5 separate regions of the Homo sapiens genome follow, and all the other regions are linked to region 1. The links come from fine-mapping of genetic effects on gene expression. A gene starts in region 1. Each other region holds a variant in brackets. All regions are shown on one strand. Distances are between the middles of the regions.

Region 1 (5,102 bases):
CTCCCTTAACTTACAAAGATACCACCAAAGTCCTTGGCAGGTGTGGCTGTGAAGATGTATCGAATGTCCCCAGGACTCAGCACTTGAAAGTACAAATAATCATGGATACGGAAGCCTGAAGGATAAAGAGTACAGGTAAGAAGCCTCCCAGGAACAAGCTGGTTCAGGTTCAGATCCCAGACCCTGTGTCTTCAGCTGGGCTGGCTATAGTCTGGGCTCAGGGTCCTGGCTTCAGCCAACGGGGTCCACTAGTGGCAGGGTTGGGGGCTAGATGGCCTCTGTCCTGGGGAGGATAGAGTTGATGCAGAGTCATTAACCCCAGAGGCTTATATCAGCTGCTGCTGCTGCTTACGCAGTAAGCCAGGAAAACTGAGAGCTCCAGGGTTAGTATTTTTGCTCTGAAGACCTGGGAGTTTCAGGGTAGAGATGTAGTGGCCTGCGTACAAAGCAATTCTCACTAAAATTTAAAAGTTGACTTTCTGGTCCCACTGCCATCCCCTTAAGTCTAGTCACTATCATCTCTTGTCCTGACAGCTCAGCTTCTTACCTGGCCTCCCTGCCTCCATTCTTGCTCCCCAAGCAACAACCAGAAATCGAAAACATCTTAGCAATTATGAGCACATCACCATACCTAGGGTTTCAATAACTGCCCTTTGCATTTAAAATTTAAACTCTTTTTAAACTGTGGCCTACAAGACCCTGTTTGCTGTGGCCCCTGGCCACTCTTCCAACCTCATCTCCTCCATCCTGTGTTCAAGCTACACTGGCCTTTCAGTGTCTTCACTTCTCTGGGTCTTTCTGCAGGCTGTTCCCTGAGCCTGGAAGGCCCCCTACTCCCACGCCACCCTACTTCCACCCCTTTACCTGACTCTTTCCTAGTCATCCTTCAGGTCACACCTTAAATGTCACTTCCTCAGAGAAAGCTTCTGCCTCATGATTGCCCTCCCATACCCATTCAAATGTACTTTTTAATAAATGGGGACTTTCAACATAATTTGTAATTATACAGCTTTCATAACTTTTCTTTTTTTCTTTTTTTGAGACGGAGTCTCGCTCTGTCACCCAGGCTGGAGTGCAGTGTTGCGATCTAGGCTCGCTGCAAGCTCCGCCTCCCGGGTTCACGCCATTCTCCTGCCTCAGCCTCCGGAGTAGCTGGGACTACAGGCGCCCGCCACCACGCCCGGAGAATTTTTTGTATTTTTAGTAGAGACGGGGTTTCACCGTGTTAGCCAGGATGGTCTCTATCTCCTGACCTCGTGATCCACCCGCCTGGGCCTTCCAAAGTGCTGGGATTACAGGCGTGAGCCACCGCGCCCGGCCTCTTTTTCTTTTTTTTGAGACAGGGTCTCACTTTATCACCCAGGCTGGAGTGCAGTGGCGCCATCTCGCCTCACAGCAACCTCCACCTCCCAGGCTCAAGCGATTCTCATGCCTCAGCCTCCCAAATAGCTGGGACTACAGGCGTGCGCCACCATGCCTGGCTAATTTTTTTTTGTATTTTTTAGTAGAGAGGGTTTCGCCATGTTGACCAGGCTGATTTTTTTTTTTCATTTTTTAAATAGGAATGGGGTCTCGCCTTGTTGCCAGGGCTTGTGATCCTCCCACCTTGGCTTACCAAAGTCCTGGGATTACAGGCGTGAGCCACCGCACCTGCCCTGGATTCATAATTTTTAAATATCTGCCTCTTCCACTTTGTAACTTCATTCAGTGAAGAGTCACCAGTGTCTTGCACAGTGGCTACAATATAGGGATAGCCCTATAAACTTTCCTGAATGGGTGAACAACTATATCTAGCTCCACAGCACCGATGAAGAGAATTTCCAGACCACTAGATTTTTCTGGGGCATGGGATCTTCTCCTCAGCACCAAAGTTTAATGTTGTACCTGGACTTGAGTCCCTGGTTTCCTTAACCCAGAGAGACTGCGGAATGTTGAAAGATAAAAACTGCTGTCATGGGCGGGCGCGGTGGCTCACGCCTGTAATCCCAGCACTTTGGGAGGCCGAGGCGGGCAGATCACGAGGTCAGGAGATCGAGACCATCCTGGCTAACACGGTGAAACCCCCGTCTCTACTAAAAATACAAAAAAATTAGCCGGGCGTGGTGGTGGGCGCCTGTAGTCCCAGCTACTTGGGAGGCTGAGGCAGGAGAATGGCGTGAACCCGGGAGGCGGAGCTTGCAGTGAGCCGAGATCGGGCCACTGCACTGCAACCTGGGCGACAGAGCAAGACTCCGTCTCAAAAAAAAAAAAAAGAAAAAAAGAAAACTGCTGTCACAAGTCTGTTAGTCTATCAACAAACTACCAAGTCACTACTGTGTACCAAGGATGGCATTAAGGCTTTAGCTGTCTTTGTTTACTGCCCAAATCACAGCCATCAGTTAGAGCTCCCATGGCTTGGCACTGGGCTATACAGTCCTGGGAGTGGGGACTCCCTCTCGGATACAAATACACCCCCAGAAAGCCTTCCTGGACTAGCGTCAAACTCACTCCCTCCTCCCCAACCCTTGCTTGCCTTTGTGTGTGCTTATTTGTGTAAGTTGTGGGTATACGTATGTGCTCACTTATGTGCATAGATGTATACATTTATGTGCTTGTGTAGGTGTAAACGGTTTGTGCGTGTGTGCCCACGTGTAGGAATGTGTGCTCCTGTGTACATGTGAATGCTCACATACATATCTCCAGCCTGTAGTATCCTTCCTTAGCTGTCCCTTCTGGTCGCACCCTAAGTCACCTGGGTCGGCGCTAGTGGGCGGGGAGGGGCGAGTGGGGAGATCTGCTTTGTCGTGGGAAGGTGAGGAGTCAGAGCTTCAGCCTCAGGCTGCGCCCACTTTATGTCCTTGGACCACCACCCACTTATTCCGGCCGCCCGCTCCCAGACCTGTCCTGCTCTGAACTCGCAGGGTCCCCAAGGTGACCCTTGGCCCCCAACCCGAGACGCGCGCAAGCTGGACGGCCAGCCCCGCCCTGCAACGCAGTCCCACCCGTTGCCGCTCACCGTGGGCCGCGACGCACGCGGGGAGCCAGAGCACGAGACAACACCAGCCCGCGGCGCCGGGGACCATCTCCAGGGCCGGGCCCGGCCCGGCGCCGCGTTTCCTCTCGCCGCCCCGCCGCGCGTCGCTCGCAGGACTTCAGCCTGACAGCTGCTCCGGCCTCCCGCCCACATACCCGCTCTCGCCGCGGGCTGGACGACGGGAACGAGGCTCAAGGCTGATTGGCTCTGACGCCTGCTCATGTAGCCACACTTTCCGCCTCTGCGCCTTAGCCTACTTCCTATTGGTCGAGAGAAGTGGAGCCGGGGGCTGATTGGCTTAAACTCTTAACAGCTACAACCGGCCTTCGCCTCAGCCCCGCCCCAGCATACTCTCCGGGTCCTCGCTGGCGGTGGGCGGGCCAGGGAGGACAAGCACTGGAGGTGTGCCCGTAGCCGGACTTGCTTCAGCTGTCGATAGTCGAGGCCGTTAACCCTTGCGGTCTCGGTCCTGTCCACTCCAAGGCCGCCTCGATTGACGACGATTAGCCTTCTCCCAGCTGCGCTTCCCTCCTCCCAGCTGCGCTTCCCTCCTCCCCACGCCTTCACGGGAAGGCACTCGTCTTGCGCCAGGGGGTCTTCCGCCCAGTGCCACCAACGCTTGCGCGCTCACCGTGGATAGGCGCTGGGGCCGCGGCCTGGCGCACGCCATCCACGAGGAGCCTCTGGCCAGTGCAAAGCCAGAAAACGGGCATTGGGGGCAGCTTCCCACGCTCGTCCCGTTGACACTGACTATGTAACTGTGACACTGGACACCTTGACCTCTCAGCCTCCTTTCTGTCATCAGTAAAATGGCCTTAATAGGACCAACGCAATAGGGTTGTGAGGATTAAATGAGATCGCTCACGTAAAGTGCTTTGGCACCAGCCTATCCCACACTTTGCGTCCCACACTTTTGCCTTTATTGCATTCCTTGGTCTGGCGTCCGGGGATGGAGGAGGGTGGAATTAAGTTAGTAGGTGATGCGGGCCGAGCAAAGACCCTCCGTGCTCTAAGAAGCACGACCGAAATGCGGCGACCCCTCTTTAATGAACGCCCCTCACTAGAGAGTCCCCGAAGCCCAGCCTCAGGTCCTTCTAGCCGCACCGAGTCGGTGGTAACGAACCATAGAGTAGCGGAAGTGGTCCGTTCTCTTCCTCTCCCGGCCCAAGCTTCTGGGTATTTCTATTGCGCGAGGCATTGTGGGTTGCTGGGCGGCCCGGTCTCGGAGAAGAGGGGAGAGTGGCGGGCCGCTGAATAAGCTTCCAAAATGATGGTGAGTGGCGTCTCGCGCATCCGTCGCCATCAGCTGCCATCTGGCCGGTGGCCGGCGCCGCTCGGCCTGGGCTTGCTCTGTAGGACCCTCTTTTGCTTGCCGCCTCTGTCCTCGCCCAGATCCCCAGCTTAGGGGCGACCCCAGCCAGCCGCGGCCTGGCTCGGCCCGAGCACGGCGCTGGAGCCGTTGGCGAGGGCTGCGTGGGGCTTTAGAGGAGTCTCTGGGCTGGCCGGTTGGGGACTACAAGTCCCAGGGTGCTTCGGGCCCGCGAACCCACGTCGGGGACCTCTTTTTTAGCCCCGCATGATCGGGACTTGCGTGAAACGAGTGCAGGTCGGCCGTGGTTACGCGGTCGGCAGCTAGACTTGGAAGCTGGGGCTGCTCTGAGATTTGCGGGCTGTAAAGACGTGTGCTTCTTGGAACCGGCACAGGCACATTGGGGACCTCATATTGTGCCCGCCTAGGGACTCACTATGTTCACTCGCTGACCCTCACCGCAGCGTGCAGAGAAGCAGACGCCTTCCCTAGTACTTTTAATTCATTCACTCATTCGCTCAGTCATTAAATAAACGCGTCTTTAGTGCCTACTGAATGTACCAGGCCCTGGTGGTTGCTGGGGGTTGCAGCCTCTCAGCCAGGAGAACGGGAAAGGTAGATGGAGACACTGTATCGGAGGTGGGAAGACCCAGGCTCGGACTCTGGTGACATAAGAAAGGCTTTTCTAGTTGGCTACCTAACTCTGGGTCTCGTTTTCTTGAAATTTGGGGCGAGGGAGTTGCTGTGAGTCCTGGAGCCACCTAAAGTGCTCCTTGTAGC
Region 2 (5,102 bases), 22 kb after region 1:
GCGGATCATGAGGTCAGGAGTTCGAGACCAGCCTGGCCAACATAGTGAAACCCTATGTCTACTAAAAATACAAAAAATTAGCCAGGCGTGGTGGTGGGCACCTGTAATCCCAGCTACTCAGGAGGCTGAGGCAGGAGAATTGCTTGAACCCAGGAGGCAGAGCTTGCAGTGAGCAGAGATCGTGCCGCTGCACTCCAGCCCGGGTGGTAGTGTGAGACTCCATCTCAAAAAAAAAAAAAGAGTATGATTGCTTCTTATGGTACCACAGGAGGAACCTTGCATCCACCTTCCTGGAAGCACATACTGACCACATGGAGTGGGCTTACTGGTGTGGTGAAGCTCTCCAGAGCCCTACAAGTGTGACCCTGGGCTAGTTACTTCAACCTCTCTGAGAGTTTAATTTCTCCATTTGTTAAATAGATAGAGGTTTGTTAAGTGCTTAGCACCCAGTGAATGACCCTGCTTCTGGCTTGTATTAGGACTTTTGCTTAAAGTCACTTTACCTCTGTGTCTCACTTGCCTCATCTGTAAAATCGGGCTATTTGAAGCAATGAGATGAAAGATGGGATAGTATTTTTGTTATTCCTGTTTATCTTGAGAACTCATTGTTTGATATATATATATATATATATATATATAGTCCTCAGGTGACCTGAGGATGGGGCCGCCCCAAAACACAACAGCTTGCCTGGGAGAAGATCCCAGAGGTCTTGTGTGGTATGTCCAGGGCTAAGGGGAGGAGTTGGCGGGAGTAGGGGTGTTTCCAGGTTCCTGGCATGCTCATAGGAAGATGCAGTATTCTTCAGCGAAATGCCACCAAGTTCAGAGAGTCTGCGGGTTCCTAGCAGTGTCTTTTGGAGTACCAGTTTACAAGAGGAAAGTTGAAAGTAGTTCCATATTACCTCCTTTCTTTTCCTACTCTTTTAGGGGGGTACATGGTATGGAGTAGACATCAACAACGAGGACATTGCTGACAACTTTGAAGCTTTCGTGTGGGAGCCAGCTATGGTGCGGATCAATGCGCTGACAGCAGCCTCTGAGGCTGCGTGCCTGATCGTGTCTGTAGATGAAACCATCAAGAACCCCCGCTCGACTGTGGATGCTCCCACAGCAGCAGGCCGGGGCCGTGGTCGTGGCCGCCCCCACTGAGAGGCACCCCACCCATCACATGGCTGGCTGGCTGCTGGGTGCACTTACCCTCCTTGGCTTGGTTACTTCATTTTACAAGGAAGGGGTAGTAATTGGCCCACTCTCTTCTTACTGGAGGCTATTTAAATAAAATGTAAGACTTCAGATAACTTTGTAAATTATTTTGGCATGGTACTCATAAATGTCTGGCTGTAGCTCAGAATTTTAGCTTTACATGCACTTGTCCAACAGGGAGACAAGAGCATCCTGGGGTGAGCTCCACTAGAGTGGCCCGTCTGGAAGTTTCACTGTGGTTGCATTCTTTGTTCCAGAAGTGGCTGGACAACACGCAGTTGCTTTCTTCTGGCATCATCTTATTTAGCCCTGGCCTAGCCAGACACTGCTCTCAGGGTTTCTCTGGTTTGAGTAAATGGGTTACATTACCTTGTCTGCCCCTTCTATCTCCATATTCTTTTGGTTTAGTCTTTTGTTCCCTCTTACTCAAGACTGTGAGAAGGGTGTTTTAGGGAGGGCTTATGCTCTCTAAACTCTAGTGATCCCTTGGAAGTCTACTAAGGAGACGACTGAAAGCACCCACCTAGTCTTTTCAGTTCAGCCCCCAGTGATCTTGGTCCTTCTGCTTTCTTGTGACCAATGGGAGTTTGGAATGGCTGGCACAGATGAGCTGGAAATCCAGCAGTGTCTAACATCCTCCTGATTTACACTGGTCCTGATAGCTGGCCTGCACCCTGCTGTAGTTGGTCGTTGTTAAAAGCTGGAGGTAAATGATGATGTCATTGTCAGCCATTGAGACTTGCTAGCTAAAACTGGGAAGTGATTTTTAAAAAAAATTCTCTGAACCCAGCCACTCCTGGTTAGATGGACTCTAAAGCACAGAGG[A/G]TGGCAGGCAGGTCCAGGCTTTGGAGTCTGGCATTCCTCCTAACTTGATGGTCTTTAGGTAGACTAATTTTTCTGAGCCTCTGCTATTCTACCTGTATGACAGGGTAAGAGTAGCTGGCTCAAAGAGTAGTGAGACTTAAATGTTTATTTTTATGTTAGAGACACAGTTTAAGCCTAAAAACACTTATTCTTTTTTCTGATTTTAAATATTTCAGGACCTGAGGAATCAAGTCAGGGGCAGAAGGACATTTTGTAAAATGAGGAAGTCAAGGCCAGGCCATGATGTCAACCTGGTCTCCCGCAGTCAAAGCCTGATTGGCTGGCCAGAGCCTCCTGAGTAGGCAGTCAAGCCAGGGAGGGGCTGGGCAGTGCCTGCTGCCCTGTTGTACTGGTTTTGTCCTTGAAGGTAGTCTCTCCTAGCTGAGAGTCAGAAATGATGTATCTCAAGGCGTTTCCTCTGGATACACACACTGAAAGCAGGGTTGAGCGGTGGCAGGACAGTCACCCTAGGTGGCTTTTCTGCAGTCCTGAGGCAAGTTTTTGTTGTTTCTGAGACAGGGCCTCACTCAGTTAACTAAGCTGGAGTGTGCAGTGGTGTGATCTCAGCTCACTGTAACCTCCACTTCCCTGGCTCGATATCCTCCCACCTCAGCCTCCCAAGGAGCTGGCAATACAGGCACATGCCGAGCTAATTTTTCAGTTTTTCTTGCAGAGACAGGGTTTCACTATGTTGCCCAGACTAGTCTCGAATTCCTGGGCTCAAGTGATTCTCCCGCCCCAGCCTCCCAAAGTGCTAGGATTACAGATATGAGCAACTGTGCCCGCTGGCAAGTCTTGTTATACTTCATTCCCCTGGGTTACCTGCCTCTCTGCACTTGAGCTGCAGAAAGACCATGATAACACAGATGATAAGTGTGGCCACATACCATTTACCTCTCTGGGGCAGATAGACCAGTTTCACCATCTTTTTTATTGGATACAGAGCCATAAATTCTCTGATGCCCATGTGAGTCCTTTTAAATACATACACTCAGGTACATTCAGCAAAGGGCATCTTACGGGTGACATGGAGCAAAGTGCTGGGATGGCGATGCCTGGGTGGGGCAGAGAAGTGTGGCCAGGGAAGGCCCCCTGGGGGCTGGAGGTACAGGCACCACTTCAGAAACAAAAATAAAACCAAAAATTGCTCTCCACCCCTCTGCCTGTGCTTGGGGCTGGGGAAGCTACCCTCTCACTCAGGCCCATTATAGCCTAGCTGTGTAGGAAGGTAGGGCCTAAGGGCCAGTTATGGAGGTTGCCCACCAGTGGTGCCCACTAGAACCAAGCCTGCTGGCATCAGCCACAAAGCAAGCCTGGGTCACCTCAGGCCTCTGCCCTGGATACAAGACCCTTGTCAGGGCAGAGCTGAGGCTGGCAAGCCCAAGGCCAAGCCTCCCTTGGGCCATGCTGGCAGTGGCAGAGGAGGCTTGGCCTCACGGTGGGGAGCCTGCCTGATTGTCAGGGCAGCCTTGGGACTGGCTGAGGTCCCAAGGGTTTGGGGAGGGAGTCGTTGCCTTAGCTGGCCCTGGTATTCTGATCTTTACCCAATCCTAAACCTTATCCTCAGGCAAGGGCTGCAGATGAACACACTTGTCCAGGAATACATACATACACACAATACACAGCAATATATACAGAAATGCAGGCCGGGCACAAGGCTGGGTGAGAAAGCATGGCCACTGGGTTGGAGAGAAGGGCCAGGCCCCCAGGGGAAGGAAGTTACACTCATCAGGGACTGACAGGCTGGGACAGGTCCCATGGGTTCGAGTTAACTTCTCTGGGCATTTGGGCCTTACACCCACTCACCATCTCCTGTTTTTACCCCAAGTCCAACAGGAACTGGGACTTTGGCACCAATAGTCACTCTGGGAAGGCCTCCTTCAACTTAGCGCCTTAGAGGGATTGGGGCCCGGGTGACTCCCCACTGGTGGCCCCAAAGATAAGAGACCAGGAGTGGGGAAATAGGCAGGACCCAAAGGCAAGGGATGGAGCCAAACCTTGGAGTAGCAGGCCTTGGGAAGGAGGACTTTTTTTTGTTTTTCTCTTTTGAGGCAATTCCTGAGGGGCTGGCTCAGACTCGAGTGTCACAGAACCAAGAAAACAGGAGCTGCCTTGATCCTTAGGTGGTCTCTCCTGGCTGGGGAAAGGCTGTGGTGCTGGGCTGGGCAGGCCACCCACTCTTTATTCCTGCAGGGATGCATATAAGTGCACCTTCATTTCCTGCCGGTGCTGTGGGGAAGCAGCCTGAATAAAGCATGAAGTACTTAAGCCAAGTACACCAACCTCCCAGGTAGGTACTGGGGCCAGACTGGATGGCAGGGGGTGGTAGAAACACCAAGTGGCCACCCCCACTGGGCCTCTACACATACCTGGGGCCCCTGGAGCAGGGCTGCTTGCTCTCAGATATTCCTTTCTTGCATCTTACTGGGTATGAGATGTGAAGGGATCCCGTTTGGGTGGGTAAAGATGGATGAAGTGCTTCTAGGGATAGCCAGGCCCTCTGTCCCTGTTCCCATCCTCAGCCCTAGCTGTATGGTCACCAAAAAAATCCATGCATAGAGCCTCCCAGCAAGCAAAAGCTCCCTACTCAGCAGCAGAGCTCATCCCCGAGGAGAGAACAAAAGAAGAGCGTCAAGGGGCTGGTGGGGCAGGGGCTGCAAAGCTGCCAGTGCTTGGGCATGCATGAAGGCTAGGGGGCACAAGTCTGTCAGCCCCAGGGTGCGTGTGCAATGGAATACTCTGACCTCTCATTCTTGCTGCAAAGGATTGGGCCTGCTCACACACATCCTTCACACACAGCCAGAACAGGGTGGAGGACTGAGGGGCTTTCCTGGAAATAGCCAAACCCATGGGAAGTGGACGTCCCCCCAGGCAGAAGGGTATCTTGTTCACCCCTCTGCCTCTAGTGCAGGTGGTGCTCAGTACTGTTGCACTAATGAATGAATGAGTGAGTGAAACTACAACTAGCATCTGTCCTTTCAGCACCACCTTTCTCCCACCCTAGCTCACTACCCATACACCCCAACCTCCTTTCT
Region 3 (5,102 bases), 30 kb after region 1:
AGGAGGGGGAGGTGGGGCAAATACTTGGGGACAGAGGGCTTCAGGGACTGGATATGTCGTGAAGTCGGGGGAGGTAGAGGAAGATCAGGCGACTGAGAAGGGCCTGGAGGTCATGATTCTGGAGGCTGAGCAGTTAGTTCTGGTGGTAAAGTCCAGGGTATCCCATGTGGCTGAAGGGGGAGGAAGGTCTTGGAAAGAGGGTCAAGGCACCTTGGCGCAGTTGGCATGGGGTCCTCTCAGGAGCCAAAGGGTCCTGGCTGGTGGTCTCCTTGGGCAGGAGCAGCCCACACTGGGTGCCAGGTCCTCAGTGCAGGTGGAGTAGTGACTGAGAGTGGAGTGGGTGGTTTGAGAAAGGTGTGGAAGCCAAGGAGGTATGATCTGGAGTCCAGGGAGAGAGGAGTCTTCACCCTGAGAACTGTCCTTGGGGGGGCTTCCATATATCATCTCATTTAATCCTCTCACCCATCCTAGAAAGTCAGCTTAGAAGATGGGAATACAGGACTCAGAGAGGTATAGTAACTTGCCCAACATCACTCAGCTAATAAGTAGCAGAGCCAGACCTGGGACCTAGGTCAGTCAGGCTCTAGAACCAGTGCTCTTAACCTGTCCCCCTGCCTCTGCCCTTGGCTGGAGACTCTGATCCATCTGCCCCAGTGATAGTTAGGATACCTGCTGACAGGGCCCCGTGGCAGGTGATAGTCGTACCCTGCCCCTCATTCCCCCAGTGCTCACTGTTGAAGTGCAGTAGGGCCTTAGGGGTGACGGGAGTCGCCGTGAGCACCAGCATCTCCAGTCCCTTCAGGCCTTCCCGGCAGACCTCTGCTGCCACCTCCTGGGTGATCTCTGACACGTGGTCAAGCTCCAGGACCTGCAGCCGCATGCAGTTTCTCGCTAGGAAGAGGAAGAAGGGGGATCCTGCTGACACACTCCCCAGGTCACCCCTGCAGCCAGCACCCTGGCTACCACCCTGCCACCTGCCACCACCCAGGCTGCAGCCCCAAGCCCCTGTGGGATTTCACAAGGCAGCACTGCACCCATGCCTGCTTCCCACTACCCACCACCCCAGTCCAAGGAAAGACTCACCGAGTGATGCCAGGCCCTGCACCCCACAGCCGGCACCCCCGACCCCCAGGGCCCGCAGGTGGGGCCAACAGCGACCAATCATCTGCAGGCAGCGGTTACTGAAGCGTGTGGGCTGCTGGCTGGAGAATGGGAAGGGGGAGCCGTCAGGGAAGTCTCTGGATGCTTGATAACCCAGCATGCTCCTCCTGTGGGACCCCTCCCTGACTCAGGCAAGCATTCCTCCAACAACCCAGCAGGTCAAGTCAGAGAACCAGGATCATCCCTGACTCCTCTGCCCTCATCTCATCCACCAAGTCCTGCAGATTCTGATTCCCAAGCACTCTTTTTTTTTTTTTGAGACAGGGTCTCAATCTGTCACCCAGGCTGGAGTGCAGTGGTGCAATTTCGGCTCACTGCAACCTCTGCCTCCTGGGTTCAAGCAATTCTCCTGCCTCAGCCTCCCGAGTAGACAGGACTACAGGCATGCACTACCATGCCCGGCTCATTTTTTTGTACTTTTAGTAGAGACAGGATTTTACCATGTTGGCCAGGCTGGTCTCAAACTCCTGGCCTCAAGTGATCTGCTGCCTCGGCTTCCCAAAGTGCTGGGATTACAGGTGTGAGCCACTGCGCCCGGCCTTAAGTACTCTTGAACCCACAGTTCAGACCACCATTGGCATTCTCTGGGTTAGCACTAGTCTCCCTGCATCTCATCCTCCACACTGCAGATAGGGAGCCCCTCATTCCTACATCCACTCACTCTGCCATTCAGCAAGTGGTTATCAAGTCAACAACAACTGAGCTAGGCCCTGGGGGTACAGCGGTGACAACATAGACATGGTCTCTACCCTCAAAGAGTGGACAGTCTCTTTGGTGGCAGAAGTTGTGGGGGGCATAGAACATTAACAGTCTGATCTTAATCCCTTTCTTAAAATCTAAAATCCCGCCAAATAGCTTCCAATACTTTCTAGATAAAATGCAAAAAAACCTAAATTCCTTAGCAAGGCCCTTCCTGATTGCCCCAACTTTCCTTTCCATTCACACCAAATGCCATTTCCCTAAACATTTCAACCCTCAACATTTGCCCAGGCAACAAACATCTCTCTGGCATCTATTATGCATTTGGTACTAGGGATACAGAAATGGACATTCCTAGATTCTGCCTTGAGAACAACCCATCTGGTGGAGGAGATAGAAATATAAAGAAATTATTGCAAAGTAGGGCTGGGCGCGGTGGCTTATGCCTGTAATCCCAGC[A/AC]CTTTGGGAGGCCGAGGCGGGCAGATCACCTGAGGTCAGGAGTTTGAGATCAGGCTGGCCAACATGGTGAAAGCCCGTCTCTACTACAAATACAAAAATTAGCTGGGCATGGTGGCCCATGCCTGTAGTCCCAGCTACTTGGGAGGCTGAGGTAGGAGGATCGCCTGAACCTGGGAGGTGGAGGTTGCAGTAAGCTGAGATTGCACCACTGCACTCCAGCCTGGGCAACAGAGCAAGACTCTGTCTCAAAAACTAAATAAAAAAAAAAAAAGAAATTATTGCAAAGTAGATGACAGAGGGGTCAGGGCAACATGCAGTGGGGATTGAGGCAGGGGAGCAGTGACACACTCTACCCAGGGTGTTACAGAAGGCACACTGGATGACTGGGAGGAGCTGTCGCGTGGAGAGAGGCAAAATGTAGGGAGCAAAAGAGCCTGGTGTGTTAGAGGAACTCCAAACAGAGTGAGAAATGATTTCATAACCTGGATTCTCCAATGACCAGCTCTTTCATACACTGACCTCCCTGAACCACCTTTCATATGTCAAACAAAGCTGGTGGTTTTTAGCTGGTGTTTACTGAACAATTACTGTGGACCCTGCAGGCTTTGTGTACCTGATCTCATTTGGGCGAGCAACAGCCCTAAGGTCCATAGTTCCTAATACCACCTTTACTTTGCAGTTTGAGAAACTAAGACATGATTGAGATTGCCAAGGTGGCACTGCCAGTAAGCCAGGACATGACCCCAGGTCTGATTTTATTTATCTATTTATTTATTTATTTATTTATTAGACGGAGTTTCCATCTTGTTGCCCAGGCTGGAGTGCAATGGCACGATCTCGGCTCACTGCAACCTCTGCCTCCCAGGTTCAAGCGATTCTCCTGCCTTAGCCTCCCCAGTAGCTGGGATTACAGGCATGCACCACCACGCTCGGCTAATTTTGTATTTTTAGTAGAGACAGGGTGTCTCCATGTTGGTCAGGATGGTCTCGAACTCCAGACCTCAGGTGATCCGCCCGACTCAGCCTCTCAAAGTGCTGGGATTACAGGCGTGAGATACCGTGCTCGACCAACCAGGTCTGATTTTAAAGCCCTGCTCCTAATGCCTCAATGGACAGATTAATGTGTGTGGATCTGTCCTAATAGCTTGTGGAATGGGCTCAGATCTGCTAAGTCCTCAGCCCCAGACCAGGCCCAACCGTGTCCCCCCTCCTATCCCCCAAACCTGCCAGGGCTCACCAGGGGTGAAGTGGTGCCACTTGGAGGGAGACGATCTCTCTGCAGCCTGCGCCCAGGGCCCAAATGACCTCATGGCCCACGGGGTCTGTGGCACTCCTGTGAAAAGACAAAGCTGCTAGTCAGGCAGCAGGGTGGCTTATACTGGTAATCCCAACACTTTGGGAGGTCAAGGCCGAGGTTGGGGATCGCCTGAGCCCAGGATTCCAGACTAGCTTGGGCAATACGGCGAGACCCCGTCTCCATTTAAAAAAAAAAAAAGAAAGAAAGAAAAAGAAAATATACAAGACAAAGCTGGAGTCGCCCACAGTGGTGGCCTCTGCTCTTGCCAAGGCTTCCTTTCCTTCAGCCATAGAGCTCTTGGATCCCTTTGCTTGAGAACCCTGGGGGAGGCTATGCAGCACCTAGGGATCCGGTAGGACCCTGGGCTTAGAGGGAACAGGCCATGCTTCTAGTCGGTTGACCCACCTGTACGTGACAGCCTGCAGGGCACGGCAGTAGCAGCTGGCCAGCCAGAGCGAGCGGTCGGTGAGGATGTTTGGACAGTGGGAGATGCGCAGGATCAGCAGGTTCCCCCCAGCTGCCTTCAGCAGGGACTCCAGCCCAGCTTCCAGGCAGCCCCTGGGGATGACCAAGAGGTCAGAGAGCTGGCAACCTCCTCCTCTGGGAAACTTAATTCCAGGTCTGTGGCCCAACAGCACCCACCACCCACCCATCGCAGGCCTCACCGGGTGCTCCGGGCATACTCCTCCTTGCTCTCCTTCTTTCCCCGCTGCCGGGGCTTCAAGTTCTGCAGCGTCAGAGAGTGGGCCTGGGTGCACCACTGAGCCAGCATTGCCAGGAACTGTGGGGGAGGGGAAGGACATTTGGAGATGAAGGGGTCTGAACTTGGTTGGCTGGAGGTGGGCCAGCCCCAGGATAGAAGGCCCCATGAGAGCATTTCAGGGAAGCCAGGTTGGCATTACAGTGTTGTAAGGGTTGCAAGGACCAGACCTCAAGGGGCCAGATTCTACCCAGGGGGAAAGGTGGGTTCACAGCAGGGCACAGAAGGCAGGCAGGGGCAGGTACCTTGGAGCAGACACGGGCATTCTCAAGCAGCACCCTTGTCCAGACTGCGGGGTGGCGGGCCACGAAGCGCCAGTCCCGGCAGACCTCGGCAGCATGCAGCAGTGTGCGCGTGTCCAGGTAGGTGAAGATGCAGAAGAGGGCAGCTCGCATCTTCAGGATCTCTGGGCTGATGACCTCATTGGAGCGTGAGGGGCTGACCCTCTCTGCTCGCCGACCCCGCCCACTGCCTCCCTCGGGGCGGGCTGCAGAATACCAGGGGTTCAAAAGTGAGCGTGGAGGGTCAAGGCTGGTGTGGGGATGTGTGTGGGGAGCTGGGGCAGGGTAGGATCTGCAGAGGAATGGACATGCTGTGGTACCAGGGCCTAGGGAGGAAGGAAAAGGGGCCTCTGCCTCCCTGTCCTTTGCGGTACCCCATCTCCAGTTTTACAAATTACAAAAAGGCATCCCTTGTGTAAACTTCCTTTTTAAGGTTATATATCAT
Region 4 (5,102 bases), 92 kb before region 1:
TTCAACTCTGACAGTAGCTACCTGGAGTTAGTGTGAGACCCCAAAGCTTAAGGGCTCAGTCCCACAATACTGCCCCTGACTTCAAATGCCAATCTCAAGTAATGGGTCCCCAGGTTACCCACACTTCTGTGTGACTTAGCTACAAGTGAGGGTTTCCTACAACCACCTATTCAGATTCAATAATCTGCTGTAATGGCTCGCAGAACTCAGGGAAGCACTTACATGTACGGTTTATTATAAAGGATACAACTCAGGAACAGCCAAATGGAAGAGACAGGGTATGAGGAGGGAGGGGCACAGAGCTTCCATAGCCTTTCAGGCCTCGCACCCTCCCAGCACCTTAATGTGTTCACCAACCTGGAAGATCTCCAAACCCTGTCATTTAGGGTTTTTATGGAAGTCCCATTATGTAGGCATGATTTATTAAATCATTGACCTTCTGTGACTGACATTAATCTTCAGCCCTTCTCCCCTCCCCAGAGGTCAAAGAGATGGGGCTGAAAATTCCAACCCTCTAATTACAAGGTTGGTTCCTCTGTCAACCAGCCCCCATCCTCCAAGAGTCACCTCATTAGCATAAACCCAGGTATGGTTGAAAGGGGCTTATTATGAATAACCAAAGGTGTTCCTCTCACCCCTATCACTCAGGGGAATCACAAGACTTTTAGCAGCTCTGTGCTAGGAACCCGGGGAAGAGACCAAATATATATTTCTTGTTATGTCACAGGATTGCATTAAATTTGCAGATCCATTTGGGCAATATTACAATATTGCTATCTTAACAATAATAGTTTATCTGTTTTGTTTTGTTTTTAGAGATGGGTCTTGCTATGTTGCCCAGGCTGGCTCAAGCAATCCTCCTGCCTTGGCCTCTCTAAGTGCTGAGATTACAGGCGACAACAGTAGTTTGTTGTTGTTTCTATATACAGGATCACGTCATCTGTGGGAAAAAAAGACAGTTTTACTTCTTTTCCAATGTTGATGCCTTTATTCTTATTTTTTGGCCTTATCACACTGACTTGAATCTCCAGGACAATGTTGATTGAAAGTGGCAAGAGCTGACATTCTTGCCTTGTTCCTGATCTCAAGGAGAAACATTCAGTCTTGCATCATTATATGTAATGTTGATGGTAGGTTTCAGTTAGATATGCTTTATCAAGTTAAGAGAGCTCCCTTTTATTCCAAGTTCAAGGGTTTTTTTTTAACCATCAATGGATGTTGGATTTTGTCAAATGTTTTTTCTGCATCTGTTGAGATCATATGATTTTGTCCTTTATTTTATTAATACAGTGATTCATCTTAATTGGTTTTCAGATGTTAACTCAACCTTGCTTTCCTGGGATAAAGCCCACTTGGTCATGGTATACGCTTCTATGTATGTGTTGCTGGGTTTTATTTGCTAATTTTGTGCTAAGGATTTTTACATCTGTGTTCAAAAAGGATGTTGGTCTGTAGCTTTCTTTTCATATGATATCTTTGTCTTGAATCAGGGTAATACTGGCCTCACAGAATGAGTTCGGAAGTGTACTTTCTTCCCCTATTTTCTGAAATAATTTGTGAAAGATTGGTATTATGTGTTTTTAAATTATTTGATAGAATTCACTAGTAAAGTGTTCTGTGACTGGGTTTTTCTTTGTGGGGAGATTTTAAGTACTAATCCCATTATTTACTTGCTATAGGCCTATTCAGACTTTATTTCTTCTTGAGTCAGTTTTAATAATCTGTATCTTTCTGGGAATTTGTCCATTTCATCCAAATTGTTCAATTTGTAATATTTCCTTGTAATTATTTTTGTTTCTGTGTGGTCAGTAGTGATTTTGTAATTTATGTTTTCTCTTTCTCTTGGTCAGTCTAGCTAAAAATTTCTCAATTTTGTTAACCTTTTCAAAAAACAGACCTTTTGTTTTATTGATTTTTCTCTATCATTTTTCTGTTTTCTATTTTTTTTTTTTTTTTTTTTTTGAGACAGAGTTTCACTCCTCTTGCCCAGGCTGGAGTGCAATGGTTCAATGGTGCGATCTCAGCTCACTGCAACCTCTGCCTCCCAGGTTCAAGTGATTCTCCTGCCTCAGCCTCCTGAGTGGCTGGGATTACAGGCATGCGCCACTACATCTGGATAATTTTGTATTTTTAGTAGAGACTGGGTTTCTCCATGTTGGTCAGGCTGGTCTCGAACTCCCGACCTCAGGTGATCCACCCGCCTCGGCCCTCCAAAGTGCTGGGATTACAGGTGTGAGCCACTGCGCCCGGACTTCTGTTTTCTATTTCTTATTTCCACTCTAATCTTTATTTTCTT[T/C]CTGCTGTTTGCTTCAGATTTAATTGTTCCTTCTTTTTCCAGTTGCTTAAAGTAGAAGCTTAGATTGTTGATATGAGACCATTCTTCTTTTCTAATCTAGGTATTTATAGCTATACAGTTCCCTTAAATGCTGCATTTGCCGCATCCCATACATTTTGATACGTTGCATTTTCTTTTTCATTTAGTTCAAAAGATATTTAATAATTTTCCTTGTGATTTCTTCTTTGATCCATGGATAATGTAAAAATATGCTAATTTCCAAATATTTGGGGATTTCCCAAATTTCTAGATACTCACAACCCACTATCAATGTAATATTGTCCAGAATTTTAATTTGGGATTCTTATGGGTTTGCTTTCCCTTTGTCTTTGGTCTTAAGTCTGCTGCTGTTCCTGCTGTTGTTGTTTAGACAACAGAATATGTTACCAATGTATTTAATCACCTTTATTTAAATATTTCTTGCAAAGTCTCCTAGGTTTTTCTTCTTGAGTATTTCCTCCAAAATGTTTTTAACTTTTTTTAATTGTAAAATGTTTCTAGAAAAGCAGAAAAGATAGTACAATGAACATCAATACATCCCTCCACCTAGATATAACAATTGTCAACATCTTTAAAACAATTTGTTTTATATATTAGGTTAAACCATTTGAAATTACTCCATTGACCTTTGAATGCGGCCTTGTTTTCTGGCACTCCAGGGATGGTTTTCAATGTGGTTCTTTGTAAGGCAAGCATTTTAAGGCCTCGTTGCCTGCAAATATTTATTTATTTATTTATTTATTTATTTATTTGAGATGAGATCTCACTCTGTCACCCAAGTTGGAGTGCAGTGGCACAATCACGGCTCACTGCAACCTCCACCTCCCAGGCTCAAGTGATCCTCCTACCTCACCCTCTCGAGTAGCTGGGACTACAGGTGCACACCACCACACCCTGCTAATTTTTGTATTTTCTGTAGAGATGAGGTTTTGCCATGTTGCCCAGGCTGGTCTTGAACTCCTGAGCTCAAGAAATCTACCTGCCTTGGTCTCCCAAAGTGCTGAGATTACAGGCATTAGCCACTGTGCACCCCCTGCCTGAAAATATTTTTATTTTTACCTTTTCACACTTGAATGACAACTTGGCTGGATGTAAAATTGTAGGTTCAAACTTATTTTTCTTTTTTACTTAAGAAATATTACTCCATTATCTTCTTACACCCAAATGTTGTTGTTGAAAGGTCTGACGTCAGTCTAATTCTCTTAGAATTTCCTGTTTGGTATTCTTAAATTTCACCATACTATATCTTATGCGGGTTTTCCCTTCTCTCTCTTATTTTCTATGCAGTAGGCCCTTTCAATCTGAAGTCATTCATTCTTTCTAAATATGAAAAATGTATGTCTATTGTTTCTTCAAATGTATTTTTCCATTCATTTTTATTGTTTTCTTCTGGATTCCCATTATATGAATGTGGGTATTCTGCTTCTAGTCTCCTTATTTCTTAGCTTTTTCTTCCTCCTCATTCTTCAGTGAGTTCTTCTTGCAGTTTCTCAATATGATATTCTAATTTACTTTTCAACTATTACTTACTAATTTATTTGTTCTTTCTTTCCATTATCTTTTTCATACCTAATATTTTCATTTGATTCTTTTAATTTTTTTCTTGTTCTTGTTTTACACTGCTCATACCTTACTTCTCATATCTCTCGTGTATTTATAGAGCTGATTTGTTTTTGTTGTTGTTGCTGTTGTTGTTTTTGAGACGGAGTCTCACTCTATCGCCCAGGCTGGAGTGTGGCGGCATGATCTCAGCTCACTGGAACCTCCACCTTCCAGGTTCAAGTGATTCTCTTGCCTCAGCCTCCCGAGTAGGTGGGATTACAGGTGCCTGCCATCACGCCTGGCTAATTTTTGTATTTTTAGTGGAGATGGGGTTTCACCATGTTGGTCAGGCTGGTCTCGAACTCCTGAACTCAAGTGATCTGCCTGCCTTGGTTTCCCAAAGTGCTGGGATTATAGGCATGAGCCACTGTGCCTGGCCTATAGAGCTGATTTGAAATTGTTGGTCAATTGATACTAATACTCCTGCCCAGTCCTGCTGCTTCTGGTGTCATATGTTGTGCATTCCTTTTTTCTTCTGGTTTAGTTTTGCCCTTCAAGTGTCTCATTATTGCCCTGTAATGCCCTTTGGGGAAGGCAGAAGGCCACTCCTTAGTATCTACCAGTCTGTTAAGTTCAAGGAGAGGATGAGGACTCGGATCTTGAGTGGAGCACCCCAGGCTCTGCACAACCACAGGTTTGTTCTCATCCTGCCCAGGGGCCTTGGTTTCACTTTCCACCCTGTGGCTAGAAGGAAGCTGTCTCCACTGATGGGATGGGCCAGGCTGGTGATTTGGAGGGGAAAGAGTGGAGGGATTGCTCAAAAATGGTTGTTCCCTAATTCAACTCCTCACCCTGGCAGGGATCTACGCTGCCCTGAGTTCATCCCCATGGACATCCTGACCAGCGAGTGGTCTGAGCCTCTGCAGTTCTGCCGTGAGGGCAAGTGATGACTGGCCAATGCAAAGGTGCAGGAGAGGCAAGAGTAGAGAGTCAATCACTATTCTCTTCCTTCATCCTTACCATCATAGCCACCTCCCTCAGGCTGCAACCACCCCCCACTCCCACATGCAGGCACACACTCCCCAGTTCTAAACAGCCTGTCAGCTCCACAGGAGTTTCTTCTCTGTTGTTATTTCCTGGCTTTCATGTTTCCCTCTATAATTTCTCTTGTGTTTAACCTGGGTAGGGAGCCAACAGCCCAAGCAAAATCCCATCTTAGCAAAAA
Region 5 (5,102 bases), 53 kb before region 1:
TGCGCAAATTTAGCATCTGATTCCATCTCAGGGTCCCTCTGCGAAGGTCTTTAGCCTCCCCCCCACTTTTCTTTCAAAGAAAGGCGGTATGTTCAGTATGGGCTGGCAGGTTTGGTCTAGGATAGGATCCCTCATCCCTTAGAAAGACGTAGGGGCTTGAAAGCGCAGTAGGCTGGTCCCTGGGGCACCTGTGCCCAAGCGGGCCTCCTCTCTGGAGTGACGCAGGGACTCCCCACTCATGCCTCACTCTGGCTCCTGGGACACCCCCAACCCAGCCCCTGGGAGGCGAAGACGCTTTGTAACCAGCCCTCTTCTTGGAAGGTTATGAAGTCCTATGCTATTGGTGCTTCTGAACTGACCAAGCCACTTCCCCGCTCTACGCCTTCTCTTCTTCACCCTCCCCTAAGTTCCGTAGTGAGCTGCTGGGACTTCCAGAAGTGACCGGCTCTTCCTCCTGGGAGGAGGGGCGGGGAATGTTTGTTTCTTCCCCACAGTTAGGAAGCAGTGACTCCACCAGCCCGAGCGCAGCGGTAGTCAGCGCTCGACAGTGTCCCCGTTCCCCACCACCACCCATCCTTTACCGCCCCCGGGGCACAGCGCCCTTCCCCCTCTCCCCCGTTCCAGCTTCATTTCCCGTAGCTTCGAAGCTCCTAAGGAGTTAGGATCATCTTGGCGTACAGATCCCTTCGAAGCACTGATCCCTCCGCTCCTTCCCGGCACAGCCCCTTCCCGGCACGGCCCTTTCCCGCGCGATCTCCCGCTCTAGAGACCCGCGGGATGCGTCCCCGCCCGCTGCCGGGAGGTGGGGCGCCAGCATTGTACAGTCTGCGCGCGCCCCCTGCTGCTCGCCGCGAGAAATGACGGCCTACGTCCGCCGGGCCCTTCAGCTCCTCGGTTCCGGGCGCCCCCCACCGTTCACATCCCCGCGCGTTCTCGCGTCCTCGCTGGGACTGCGCCCAGGAGCCGCAGGCACTTACAAAACAAATTGCTGCCTCCATCACTGGGCTCAGTACCACCTGACACTATCACCCCACTTTTCAGGGGACCTCAGTGACGTTCCTGCATCAAGCAGCAGGACTGGAGCCCAGGTTTCCCAAAAGGAAGTCCAGACTTTTACAAACCATTAATGAAGGGCTTAAATTCTCCAGGGCACTGTACCCCTCGTACAGCTCTGTGGAGACTGAGAAAATGGGGTTCTGGCACCCAGGAACCTGGACCCCCAAAACAGGCACAGGCCTAGCTCTGTGCTGGGCAGTGCTGTGAGTCACCTGTTCTGCCCCTGGGTGGAGTATACCCAGGCAGTAGGCACTGACAGGTTCCATCCCAGCACCAAACCCAGGAATGTCCCGGTCAACTGCGGAGCACCAACCCCAGCAGTTCCAGAAGCATCCCTTCCTCCAGGGCTGCGGCTGTAAGAGGGGAGCTGAGGCAGTGCGTTCGCTGGGGAAGGAGGGACAATGCAAGGTCAGGGCCAGAGGAGCCTGGAGGGATGAGAGGGTGCCCCCCCCCTTCTGCCACTTACTAGCTGCGTGACCTGGACTAGTTGTGTTACCCCTGTTTCTGAGCCTTGTGTTCCTTATAAAGATTGGTGATTTTTCGGCGGGGTCGGTGGCTCCTGCCCGTAATCGTAGCACGTTGGAAAGCCGAGGAGGGCTGACTGCTTGAGCCCAGGAGTTTGAGAACAGCCTGGGCAACATGGCGAAACCCTGTCTCTCCAAAAAAAAAAAAAAAAAAAAAACAATTAGCCCGGCATGGTGATGCGTCTTGTAGTCACAGGTACTAGGGAGGCTGAGGTGGGAGAATCGCTTGGGAGGCTAAGGGAGTATGGCTTGACTAGGAGGTCAAGGCTGCAGTGAGCCATGTGATCACACTACTGCACTCCAGCCTGGGTTGACAGTGAGACTCTGTCTCAAAAAAAAAAAAAAAAAAGGGGGGGGGGGTGTTGTGATTTTCATAGGTTGTGGAGAGGATTAAGGGCTACAATTTTGCAATATCTAGCATATAGCAGATGCTCCATTAGCGGTCTCTGAAGCAGCCCTTACCTCCTTCAGGGATCTCCAATCAACTCCCAGAACTGCCTGAGTGTGGCGGTCAGCCCAGAGCAGCAGGTGCTATCCTTTGTAGCACTGTTAACCAAAAACTGGACACAACCAAATATCCACTAACAGTATAACTGGATAAACAAAGTGTAATATATTCATCTTTGGAATAC[T/A]CTATAGCAATGAAAATTAATAAACTAGGGTTATGTACATAAAACTTGCAAACAGTCTGAGTGAAAGAGGCAAGCTGAAGCATTAGTACAGTATGATACTACATATATGAAGTTTTTTCTTTTTTAAATTTATATTTATAATTTTAATAAAAACATTTTTGGAGACAGGGTCTCACTATGTTCTCCAGGCTGGTCTCAAACTCCTGGGCTCAAGCAATCCTCCTGCTTTGGCCTCCCAAAGTGCTGGCATTACAGGCATAAGCCACCGTGCCTGGCCCCATATATGAAGTTTAAAAGCATACAAAATACTTCTATAAGCTACTTATGGGTCAATAAATATGGAGGAATTGTATGAGTCTGTGAGTGTAAATAATACCAAATTAGATTTGGAGGTGACTCCAGCAAATAGGACTGGAGAGGGGTACAAAAGGCCCCATATGTGTCTGCAATGTGCTTTTATTTAAAAAAAAAAAAACTCATGTAAAAGTGGCAAAACCTACAGTCAAGAATGATGAATGGTGAGTTCTTGAGTACTTACATTTTTATCTATAACTTTCTTGGTGTTCGAAATATTTTATTATGGTTTTAAAAAAAGAAGAAAGGGGAGGAAAACCATTGGTCACTGATAGTAATAGATCCTCTGCTTTTGGCAACTTGGCCCACTCATCTTCCTGCTTGACCAATTCTCCTCCATCTCTGAGCTTATCCATTCATTTTTCTTTTCAAACTAGAACCCACATGCAGATGACTCCCAAATCTATATCCAGTCCAGACAACTTCTGTTATCTAACTTCTGGTTAGGTATCTCCACTAGGATGTTTCTCAGACACCTCAGACTCAACACAAGCAAAACTCAATTGATAACTACCCCCTCCAACTGCCTGTTGCCTACAGCTGGAAAGGCATGTGGAGAGAAGATACACACCCAATCATCTTCCTGAAGCTTTTGAATACTGATGATAAAGAAAAAAACCTTCCAAACTTTTTAACAACAGAAAGATTTTCTGCAAATAGTTAACCTGACAGCCGACTTTTCATCTGCAACGTGAAATACTAGAAAACAGCTATTAGAAGCAATGAAACTTCCATGCATACAGCACCAAAGAGAGACTTTAAAAATAGTTTTAAAAAAGAGATTTATACACAATACCATTTATGTAAATTAAAAACAAATACAGAACAGCCCTGCACATTTTACATGGATCCATAAATAATAGCAAATACACAAGAGAAGGGCTTACTAGGAGAGGAGGAGGAAATAGGGGGAAAGAGAAAAAGCCAGAATGAAGAGTGGGGTCTAGTGTGGACCTCTGATGGCAATGCCCACAAAAGAGCAGGAGAGAATATCTCAGCCCTCTGCTTCTGAGATCCAAAATTTAAAAAAAAAATCGTTTAAAAATAGGGGATGGGCACGGTGGTTCATGCCTGTAATCCCAGCACTTTGGGAGGCTGAGGTGGACGGATCACTTGAGACCAGCCTAGCCAACATGGTGAAACTCTGTCTCTAATAAAAATACAAAAATTAGCTGGGTGTGGTGGTTGTAATCCCAGCTACTTGGGAGGCTGAGGCAGGAGAATCGCTTGAACCCAGGAGGCAGAGGTTGCAGTGAGCCAAGATCGTGCCACTGCACTCCAGCCTTGGCGACAGAGCGAGAATCCGTCTCAAAGAAAAAAAGGTGTTCCTAAATGCAGAAAAAGGTTGCGCATCACTGAAGTAAATGATGAACTAAATATAAGATTTGGAGGTAGGCAGGTAGGTAGAGGAGCTTGCCAGAGTGCAGGTATTTATGTTTGCTTAGAAAAGCTACAAGTTTTTCACTTCACAGTTCATATGGAACCAAAAAAGAGCCCACATTGCCAAGATAATCCTAAGCCAAAAGAACAAAGCTGGAGGCATCACACTACCTGACTTCAAACTATACTACAAGGCTACAGTAACCAAAAGAGCATGGTGCTGGTACCAAAACAGAGATGTAGACCAATGGAACAGAACAGAGCCCTCAGAAATAATACCACACATCTACAACCATCTGATCTTTGACAAACCTGACAAAAACAAGAAATGGGGAAAGGATTCCCTATTTAATAAACGATGCTGGGAAAACTGCCTAGCCATATGTAGAAAGCTAAAACTGGATCCCTTCCTTACACCTTATACAAAAATTAATTCAAGATGGATTAAAGACTTAAATGTTAGACCTAAAACCATAAAAACCCTAGAAGAAAACCTAGGCAATACCATTCAGGACATAGGCATGGGCAACTTCATGTCTAAAACACCAAAAGCAATGGCAACAAAAGCCAAAATTGACAAATGGGATCTCATTAAACTAAAGAGCTTCTGCACAGCAAAAGAAACGACCATCAGAGTGAACAGGCAATCTACAGAATGGGAGAAAATTTTTGCAATCTACCCATTGGACAAAGGGCTAATATCCAGAATCTACAAAGAACTTAAACAAATTTACAAGAAAAAATCAAACAATCCCATCAAAAAGTGGGCGAAGGATACGAACAGATACTTCTCAAAAGAAGACATTTATGCAGCCAACAGACACATGAAACAATGCTCATCATCACTGGCCATCAAAGGAATGCAAATCAAAACCACAATGAGATACCATCTCACACCAGTTAGAATGGCAATCATTAAAAAGTCAGGAAACAAGGGGTGCTGGAGAGGATGTGGAGAAACAGGAACACTTTTACACTGTTGGTGGGACTGTAAACTAGTTCAACCATTGTGGAAGACAGTGTGGTGATTCCTCAAGGATCTAGAACTAGAAATACCATTTGACCCAGCCATCCCATTACTGGGTATATACCCAAAGGATTATAAATCATGCTGCTATAAAGACACATGCACACGTATGTTTATTGCGGCACTGTT

Which allele goes with the higher level. Positions count from the first base shown, and alleles are read on the strand shown. Sizes are in standard deviations (SD) of each study's normalised expression. Not every link is listed here.
With allele A in place of T in region 5, the expression in transverse colon of the gene that starts at base 3,141 in region 1 is lower (small effect, 0.20 SD a copy in GTEx).

Evidence for each region. PIP is the estimated chance that this variant, and not a neighbour inherited with it, causes the effect.
Region 2: its variant is the best candidate, but not a certain one, in a credible set for the expression of PRADC1 in whole blood (TOPMed, PIP 0.64).
Region 3: its variant is the best candidate, but not a certain one, in a credible set for the expression of PRADC1 in blood mononuclear cells (TOPMed, PIP 0.65).
Region 4: its variant is the best candidate, but not a certain one, in a credible set for the expression of PRADC1 in whole blood (TOPMed, PIP 0.68).
Region 5: its variant is the best candidate, but not a certain one, in a credible set for the expression of PRADC1 in transverse colon (GTEx, PIP 0.86).

Annotation. Positions count from the first base shown.
Region 1 is chr2:73,230,099-73,235,200 of GRCh38, forward strand. It overlaps PRADC1 (protease associated domain containing 1), which reads right to left and starts at 3,141. Exons shown (of 5, transcript NM_032319.3): 1 at 2,996-3,141; 2 at 15-115. The coding sequence starts at 3,062. CCT7 (chaperonin containing TCP1 subunit 7) reads left to right here and starts at 4,210. Exons shown (of 12, transcript NM_006429.4): 1 at 4,210-4,286. The coding sequence starts at 4,281. RefSeq lists a silencer at 3,188-3,397 and enhancers at 3,685-4,216, 3,858-3,907, 4,028-4,097.
Region 2 is chr2:73,251,713-73,256,814 of GRCh38, forward strand. It overlaps CCT7 (chaperonin containing TCP1 subunit 7), which reads left to right. Exons shown (of 12, transcript NM_006429.4): 12 at 928-1,293. The coding sequence ends at 1,149. FBXO41 (F-box protein 41) reads right to left here. Exons shown (of 13, transcript NM_001371389.2): 13 at 2,978-5,102. Among named protein-coding and RNA genes, the nearest start is that of CCT7, 20 kb to the left of the region's middle. The variant A/G (reference allele first, on the strand shown) is at 2,029.
Region 3 is chr2:73,259,657-73,264,758 of GRCh38, forward strand. FBXO41 (F-box protein 41) reads right to left here. Exons shown (of 13, transcript NM_001371389.2): 6 at 4,622-4,863; 7 at 4,282-4,397; 8 at 4,022-4,174; 9 at 3,557-3,652; 10 at 1,084-1,202; 11 at 733-891. Among named protein-coding and RNA genes, the nearest start is that of FBXO41, 22 kb to the right of the region's middle. The variant A/AC (reference allele first, on the strand shown) is at 2,320.
Region 4 is chr2:73,138,564-73,143,665 of GRCh38, forward strand. No RefSeq gene overlaps it. Among named protein-coding and RNA genes, the nearest start is that of RAB11FIP5, 28 kb to the left of the region's middle. The variant T/C (reference allele first, on the strand shown) is at 2,297.
Region 5 is chr2:73,176,709-73,181,810 of GRCh38, forward strand. No RefSeq gene overlaps it. Among named protein-coding and RNA genes, the nearest start is that of NOTO, 23 kb to the right of the region's middle. RefSeq lists enhancers at 1-180, 181-854 and a silencer at 677-756. The variant T/A (reference allele first, on the strand shown) is at 2,213.